Linked DNA regions of Homo sapiens. The protein of the gene in region 1 interacts with the protein of each later gene in a pairwise test. Each region holds a gene or a part of one and is shown in the gene's direction. Other genes may lie near its edges.

What was found.
Region 2: the proteins of SRBD1 (region 1) and MRPS35 interact in a two-hybrid assay, tested with the Homo sapiens proteins (one large-scale study listed by BioGRID).

What each region holds. Positions count from the first base shown.
Region 1 is NC_000002.12:45,604,646-45,608,468, reverse strand, and holds part of SRBD1 (S1 RNA-binding domain-containing protein 1), read left to right. Parts: intron 1-3,027; coding exon 3,028-3,107; intron 3,108-3,823.
Region 2 is NC_000012.12:27,713,724-27,717,546, forward strand, and holds part of MRPS35 (small ribosomal subunit protein mS35 isoform 1 precursor), read left to right. Parts: intron 1-1,056; coding exon 1,057-1,097; intron 1,098-2,567; coding exon 2,568-2,735; intron 2,736-3,823.

The sequences.
Region 1 (3,823 bases):
TGGTGTTTAAACTGGAGAATACATACTCCTGGGGGTGTACCTGTCGTAGGTAGTTTTAAAGACATAATTTCCAAGTCTTCAGCTTTTGTATATATTCTTTCTAAATCTGATCTGCTTGAAATTGGCTTGTGTGTTCATGCAGATTCTGCTTTCCCACCTTTCCTTTTACATTGATATTTTTAACATTTGTGAAAAGAAATATTACAACTCACTCATCTTTCCATGGTATATTGCTTTCGGGGTGCCTTATAAAGAGGCAGTTGGAAATATTTGATTTAGGGGAGCCTTCTTTAAGGATAATGGTTAAGCAAAAACATAAGCCTGCCAAGGGTTTGCCTGTCCCTATTTTAAACACATTTCTGTTAAGGCTGAAGTGTGGAGATAGAATTAGTATATGGTAGTCTGTGTGGGAATGTTCTGAATTCAGGCATATTGTAGAATGTGGTGGTAGGAGTGATTGTAAGGTGATCTGGGTGGGTTGTTTGATGGGAAGCTTAGCACCTTCAAGTTTTTACTCTTGGACTGGTTAGATTCTCCAGAGAAAAGCCTTCCCATTCTCCTCCCTAGAGGGCAGTATTTTAGGAATTTAGTGGCGGAAGACTAGGGTTCTCTGCCTTTAGCATTCAGTCTGTATGGTTCCCATGCCCACAGTCTAGACTGTTTCATTAATACCTTCTCCAGAGAATAAACTTACAGTCTTTTTCCTGGGGCAGTTGCCTAATAGCATGAAGTGAGGTAGGACACTTAGAGATATTCCTTTGTCAGTTTATACACAGCCCTAACCCGTTTCACCTTTAATTCCAAAGGTATCAGCTACTGCTTCATATGAATTTTTTTTTTTTAGAATACTGCAGGGTAAATTGGTTTGGTTCTCATATGCTCCCACTACTGGCTTGGGATTTTAATTTTTATGTGTTGCAATTTGTTAGTCTTTTTGGTTTTGGAATTTTGAGGAGTCATATTTAGGAAAACCTCCATTTCCCCATCTCCCCTCAATAGTGTGAAAAGAATCACCTTTATTTCTTAGTTCTTTTATAGTTTTAATTTGTACATTTTAAACTATTAGTTATTGGGGAATAAATTTTTGTTAATGGTGTGGAGGTAGGAATTAAACTCCTTTTTTTCTTCTAGAGGAATAGCTAGTTGTCTCAATACCATTTATTGAATAATCCATTTTTACCCTGCCCTGATTTTAAATGCCACCCTTGTCATACACTAACTTCCTCCATTCTTATTTTGTTGTGGTAAGATACACATAATATAAAAATCACAATTACCTGTTCTTTCATGATCAATGTCTAAAAAATACTAATTTGAGAAAGGATGATCTTTATAACCTAATATGCCAAAAAGAGAGTGAAGGGAAAGATGGAAGATTATCCTGTCTACTTCCTGCAGACTGCTTTCCTGTTGTTCTTTTGGTTCCCTCTGAGCACTATTTTGCCCAATCATTGTGTACTTACTGGACTGAGTTGAGCTATAGCTGCTGGGAGAACATATTCCCTTTTGTGACAACCCCTTTAGTATTTCCATGAGAGATTATTTCCTCTTCTAAGCGGATGTTAGAACCAGAGGCATTATAACATATGACTGGGTCAGAAACTTGTTTAAAGGGTTCCAAACATGTCAGAGCCTAGTGTAGTCCTTATAGTTTGATGGTTTTATGGTAATAATATCAGGCAGCCACTTATAAAGTCCTTTATTAATTAATTTTAACAGCTAATTAATCTTAACAGCTAAAGTAATTTTATTTACTTTCCCGTATTATGTGATGTCTCTGGTTATTTGTCTTAACTTTTTTTTACAGCTTGGCCTTCGAATTTGGTAAATAGTTTTTAGTCACATAGTGATTAATCATTTTATTTAAGTTTAATGAACTTTTATTATAAGGGAATGATTATCTTGTTTTAAGAATAACCTGGCTGCTTACTCAGTCAATCAGCATCATTTATTTCATTGCCAACTTTGTAGAGAGACCTCTACTTTATTCATTAAGAATATATAGAATAGGCTGGGCACAGTGACTCATGCCTGTAATCCCAGCACTTTGGGAGGCCGAGGTGGGCGGATCACCTGAGGTCGGGAGTTCAAGACCAGCCTGACCAACATGGAGAAATGCTGTCTCTACTAAAAAATACAAAATTAGCCGGGTGTGTTGGCGCATGCCTGTAATCCCAGCTACTAGGGAGGCTGAGGCAGGAGAATCGCTTGAACCCAGGAGGCGGAGGTTGTGGTGAGCCAATATCGTGCCATTGCACTCCAGCTTGGACAGCAAGAGCGAAACTCTGTCTCAAAAAAAAAAAAAAAAAAAGAATAGGAAAAAAATGTTTCTGTCTTTGAGATATAGTTTAATAAAGGACTTTGTAAGGGGCTGCCTGATATTATTACCATAAAATAACACAGAATACTTAAGCACACAATTCTTAAAAAATGAAGCACACAGTTTTCCTACAGGTGTCACCCTGTAGGAGTTTATATTTTTTAAAAGATGGCCCATACTCTTAAGAGTTTTAAACCATTGGAAGGCTGTTAGCTACTCTTTTTTTTTCTTTTTTTTTTTTTTTTGAGACCGAGTCTCACTCTGTTGCCCAGGCTGGAGTGCAATTATGCAATCTCAGCTCTCTGCAACCTCCACCTCCTGGGTTCAAGTGATTCTTCTGCCTCAGCCTCCCCAGTAGCTGGGATTTCAGGTGCCCACGACCACACCTGGCTAATTTTTCTATTTTTAGTAGAGACTGAGTTTCACCATGTTGGCCAGGCTGGTCTCGAACTCCTGACTTCAGGTGATCCGCCCTCCTTGGCCTCCCAAAGTGCTGGGATTACAGGCATGAGCCATGGTGCCCAGCCAGCTACTCTTTTAATTGGCAGCTACATAGCAGAGGAAACTGATGTTTGGGCTTGTGAATAAACATCATTGTTTTTGTTTTTTTCCTATGAAATGTTAGTTTTGAATGACCCATTACTTGTAGCCAAATAAAGTGATAAGAATATTCAAGTGTTGCTGATTTTATTTTCTGTTTCTTCTAGATGTCATCATTGCCAAGAAGAGCGAAAGTACAGGTCCAGGATGTGGTACTGAAAGATGAATTTTCTTCATTCTCTGAGTTGTAAGCATACTGGTTTAATATGTGGGTAGGGGAATGATGAATATTTTAATAAGGAGTAATGCATTCTGTCACTTTCTAACTCCTTAAGTGATGTGGGTAGAAAAAACTTTTTTTATTCATTCATGCAACAAGTATTTGTTGAACTCATGCTGTGTTCCAGGTTCTGTCTAGTGTTGCTAATAAAGTATCGAAAGGAGAGAGAAAGTAACCAACTAAATATGTAACATAATACTTACACTAGAATATAAGCTCCATGAGAGCATAGAGTTTTATATATTGCTTTAGAGCAGGATTTTTCAACCTCTGCACTACTGACATTGTGTGCAAGACAATTCTTTGTTGTGGGGGCTATCTTTTTTCTTGTAGGATTTTTAGCAGCATCCTTGGCCTCTACCCACTGGATGCCAATAGCTTCCTGCTAAGTTATAACAATTAAAAATGTCTCTAGACATTGCTAGATATCCCCAGTTGAGAATCTCTGCTTTAGAGTCATATTAGGTGCTCTGAAGATATTTGTTAAGTAAATGACTGGTAATATTTATAGTAATAAGTACTATAAAGAAAAATAAAACAGGGCAGGGGATAGAGAGCATAGTGAGTGGTTGCAGTCGGGGGGCATTTTGGATAGAGTAGTCAGAAAGTTATTGCGGAAGATGTGGCAAGAGATCTAGATGAGATTTGGGGGTGCAGCTTGCAAAGATCTTGGGGATGGGTGT
Region 2 (3,823 bases), on another chromosome or scaffold:
ACAGACATGCCCAGAAATAATGCTTTACCACATGTCTATGTATTCCTCAATCCAGTCAAATTGACACAAAGTTAACTATCATGGCTGGGCACAGTGACTCACCCCTGTAATCCCAGCACTTTGGGAGGCTGAGGTGGGTGGATCGCTGGAGCTCAAGAGCTTGAGACCAGCCTGGCAACATGGCGAAACACCGTCTCTACAAGAATTAGCCGGGTGTGCTCATGTCTTTAGTCCTAGCTACTTGGGGTGCTGAGGTAGAAGGATTGGCTTGAACCTGGTAGTTCGAGGCTGCAGTAAGCCGAGATTGCACCACTGCAATCCAGCCTGGGCGAGAGTGAGATGACCTTGTCTCAAAAAAAAAAAAAAAAAAAGAAAGAAAGAGAAAAAAGAAAAAATTCACCGTCATACAAACTAATTGACTAGGTTTCGTTCCCTGCTATATGTGTTCATAATATTTATCACTGTTTATTGAAATTATTTGTTAAAAAGTTGTCTTACTTGACAGACTCTGTAAGAGTCATTTTTTAGATAATGAATTCACTGTATCTGCAATTCAAATAACTGTAGAATTTTCCTTACTGGGGCTAGGCACAGTGGCTCACACCTGCCCACCGCACTTTGGGAGACTGAGGCAGGCGGATCACTTCAGGTCAGCAGTTTGAGACCAGCCTGGCCAACATGGTGAAACTCTATCTCTACTAAAAATACAAAAATTAGCCAGGTGTGGTGGGGTGTACTGGTAGTCGCAGCTACTTGGGAGGCTGAGGCAGGAGAATCACTTGAACTCCGGAGGTAGAGGTTGCAGTGAGCCGAGATCACACCACTGCAATCCAATCTGGGTGATACGCCGAGACTCCCTCTGTTTCCAGTTTTTAGTCTTCATTAAGATGATTTTGGTCCCTGAGCTTACCAAAAAAAAAAAAAAAAAGATTGTTTCATTGTTATGTTACTAAATACCTTAAATTGTGTTAGAATAATGGGATCATGATTGATGTTGAACAACTAACTTGACATGATAAAATTCTCTTTAACTACTGTGTTATCTTTTACGTACAGCGGAAAGAACACCCGGAAATGAAAGGCCACCAAGAAGAAAGGTAAAAAGTTCGTATACTCTACTATCTTAATGGTTTCTGGAGTTCTAAAATGAGGCAGATATTCATTATAAGGCAGAAGGGTGTTACCAGAGAAGACTTCACAAGGTCATGTTTACTGGGTGATTGCCATAGCCCTGGCAGAGGTTAGTCTTTGTTTTTTGTCAGTACCCAGAGAATAGATGATCTTTGAGAGGTTGACTTACTGAGGAACTCCCAGGAAACAGGTGTATAAACCAGAATATGGAACAATTTCTAATGCTATCTTAAGTCCTGCAGCCTGGGACTTATGCATTAATATAACTAGTTTGTTTATTTATTTATTATTATTTATTTGAGATAGAGTTTCCCACTTGTTGCCCAGCTGGAGTGCAGTGGTGCAGTCTTGGCTCACTGGTACCTCTGCCTCCCGGGTTCAAGTGGTTCTCCTGCCTCAGCCTCCCAAGTAGCTGGGACTACAGGCACACACCTCCATGCCTGGCTAATTTTTTGTGTTTTTAGTAGAGAGAGGTTTTCACCATGTTGGTCAGGCTGGTCTTGAATTCCTGACCTCAGGTGATCCACCCGCCTCAGTGCTGGGATTACAGGCGTGAGCTACTGCACCTGGCCTCCCAAAGTGCTGGGATTACAGGCATGAGCCACGGCACCTGGCCGTATTCTAACTAGTTGAGTCTCACCCTGTGGACATTTGGATTCCTTACTTCTATGGAGGAATCTAAACGATAAGGTCAGTTGGTGAGCAATAGTGTCAGAACAAAGACACATTAGTTGGAAGTTAAATGGTATCAAATTACAATCATTAAGAGCAGTCATTTCCTCAGGACTATTACCTGCTTCTAGGATATTGACTACACTGGTTTTGATATTGCGTAGGCGGGGCATGGCTGAATTTTGCCACTATAAACCCTACTTTTGTATGTGGGCCATCCCCTCGTATTTGATGCCATTAAAAATAAATGTTAATGTGATTGACTAAGCTATCAAGTACTAGTTTTTCTCTGGGCCTAGGAGACATATAATTTTTCATTATATATTTATTCAATCAGTTTAACCCTAATTATTTTTTCCTTTTCTTTTTACTTCCAAGTACTTAACGCCCCCTCATGTACTACTGACTTCCATCAAAGAAGTTCGAAAAATTATTTCAAAATGTATTGTTAATTCACCCTTTCATAAGCAAAATGTAAAAATTTTGCTAAAAGTCCAGTTAAAGAAATTTTTAGTGAAGAAAATGTGATATTAAAGGGGATCCTTGCCAGAGGGTTTGAAGAAACAGTGCAGAGATATTTAGGTAGATTTAGTGTTGTTTTTAAAATTTGGACAGCAGCAGCATTGTGGGAGGTCAGATTTTACATATGTTGCAATTTTGCTTCTATTTCTTGTAATTGTAGCTTTTTGCTTTAAAATTAAAATTCTTTAAGAATTAAAGAATGTGTTTATATTTAAAATACTAAACGATTTTATATTTCTTAGGCACTACCTCCTAGGACAGAGAAAATGGCTGTTGACCAGGACTGGCCTAGTGTTTACCCAGTTGCAGCACCATTTAAACCCTCTGCAGTACCTCTTCCTGTTCGAATGGGTTATCCAGTAAAAAAGGGCGTGCCCATGGCAAAGGAGGGAAATCTAGAACTTTTAAAGGTAAGACAAATTGCTGATTCATTGGCTCAGACTTACATAGAAATAAATGCTGATCTTCCCCCCTATTTCTGCTCTCTTATGCTTCACCGTTCAGTGTATAGCAGCTTAGTGTATTTTAATTTAAATGTTAAAAATAATATAATAGGTTTATTATTATACAACACCAGATAATAATAGGTGTTGTATTTTGATTATCAATGGTAAAGAATACTCAAAGAATCCTAGGCATTTAATAATGTAATTAGTTGGCTGGGCGCAGTGGCTCACGCCTGTAATCCTGGCACTTTGGGAGGCCGAGGTGGGCAGATCACTTGAGGTCAGGAGTTCAAGACCAATCTGGCCAACATGGTGAAACCCCATCTCTACTAAAAACACACAAAAAATTAGCCAGACGTGGTGGTGGGCACCTGTAATCCCAGCTACTTGGGAGGCTGAGAAAGGAGAATTGCTTGAACCCAGGAGGCGGAGGTTGCAGTGAGCCGAGATGGCGCCACTGCACTCCAGCCTGGGCGATAGAGTGAGACTCTGTCTCAGGAAAAAAAAAAAGAGTAATTAGTCAATCTTGTGGCTTCCCTTGTGACCTTTTTCTGTTGTATCTCTTCTTTTTGGAGATGGGGGTCAGTATGTTGCCCAAGCTGGTCTTGAACTCCTGGGCTCAAGAGACATGCCTGCCTCAGCATCCCAAAGTGCTGGGATTACAGGTGTGAGCCACCACACCCAGCCTATCATATCTTTTCTATATTGCATCTTTCCAGTGGAATTAAGAAAAATGAAATAACCTAATTTGAGATTAAGAATTGGGAGGTGAAACTTCCAGTTTAAAAAGAGGAATTTAAATTTTTTCTGTCCATAAAGGTAGAATATTATTTAGTATTATTATTATAGTCTACCAAATTTAACTTTATTGCTTGAAGCAAAATAGGTTAAGGCAAATGCTTTGTTTGATAGCATGTATAATTATTTATCATGGGTGTTTTAAAGAAAATATAAATGCTTAGTCTGGGAATGCATATCTTAGATGGTTTCTTAAATACAATGAAAGTTATACAAAGGACAATGAACTGTTTTCCATTAGATGAGAGTCTTTG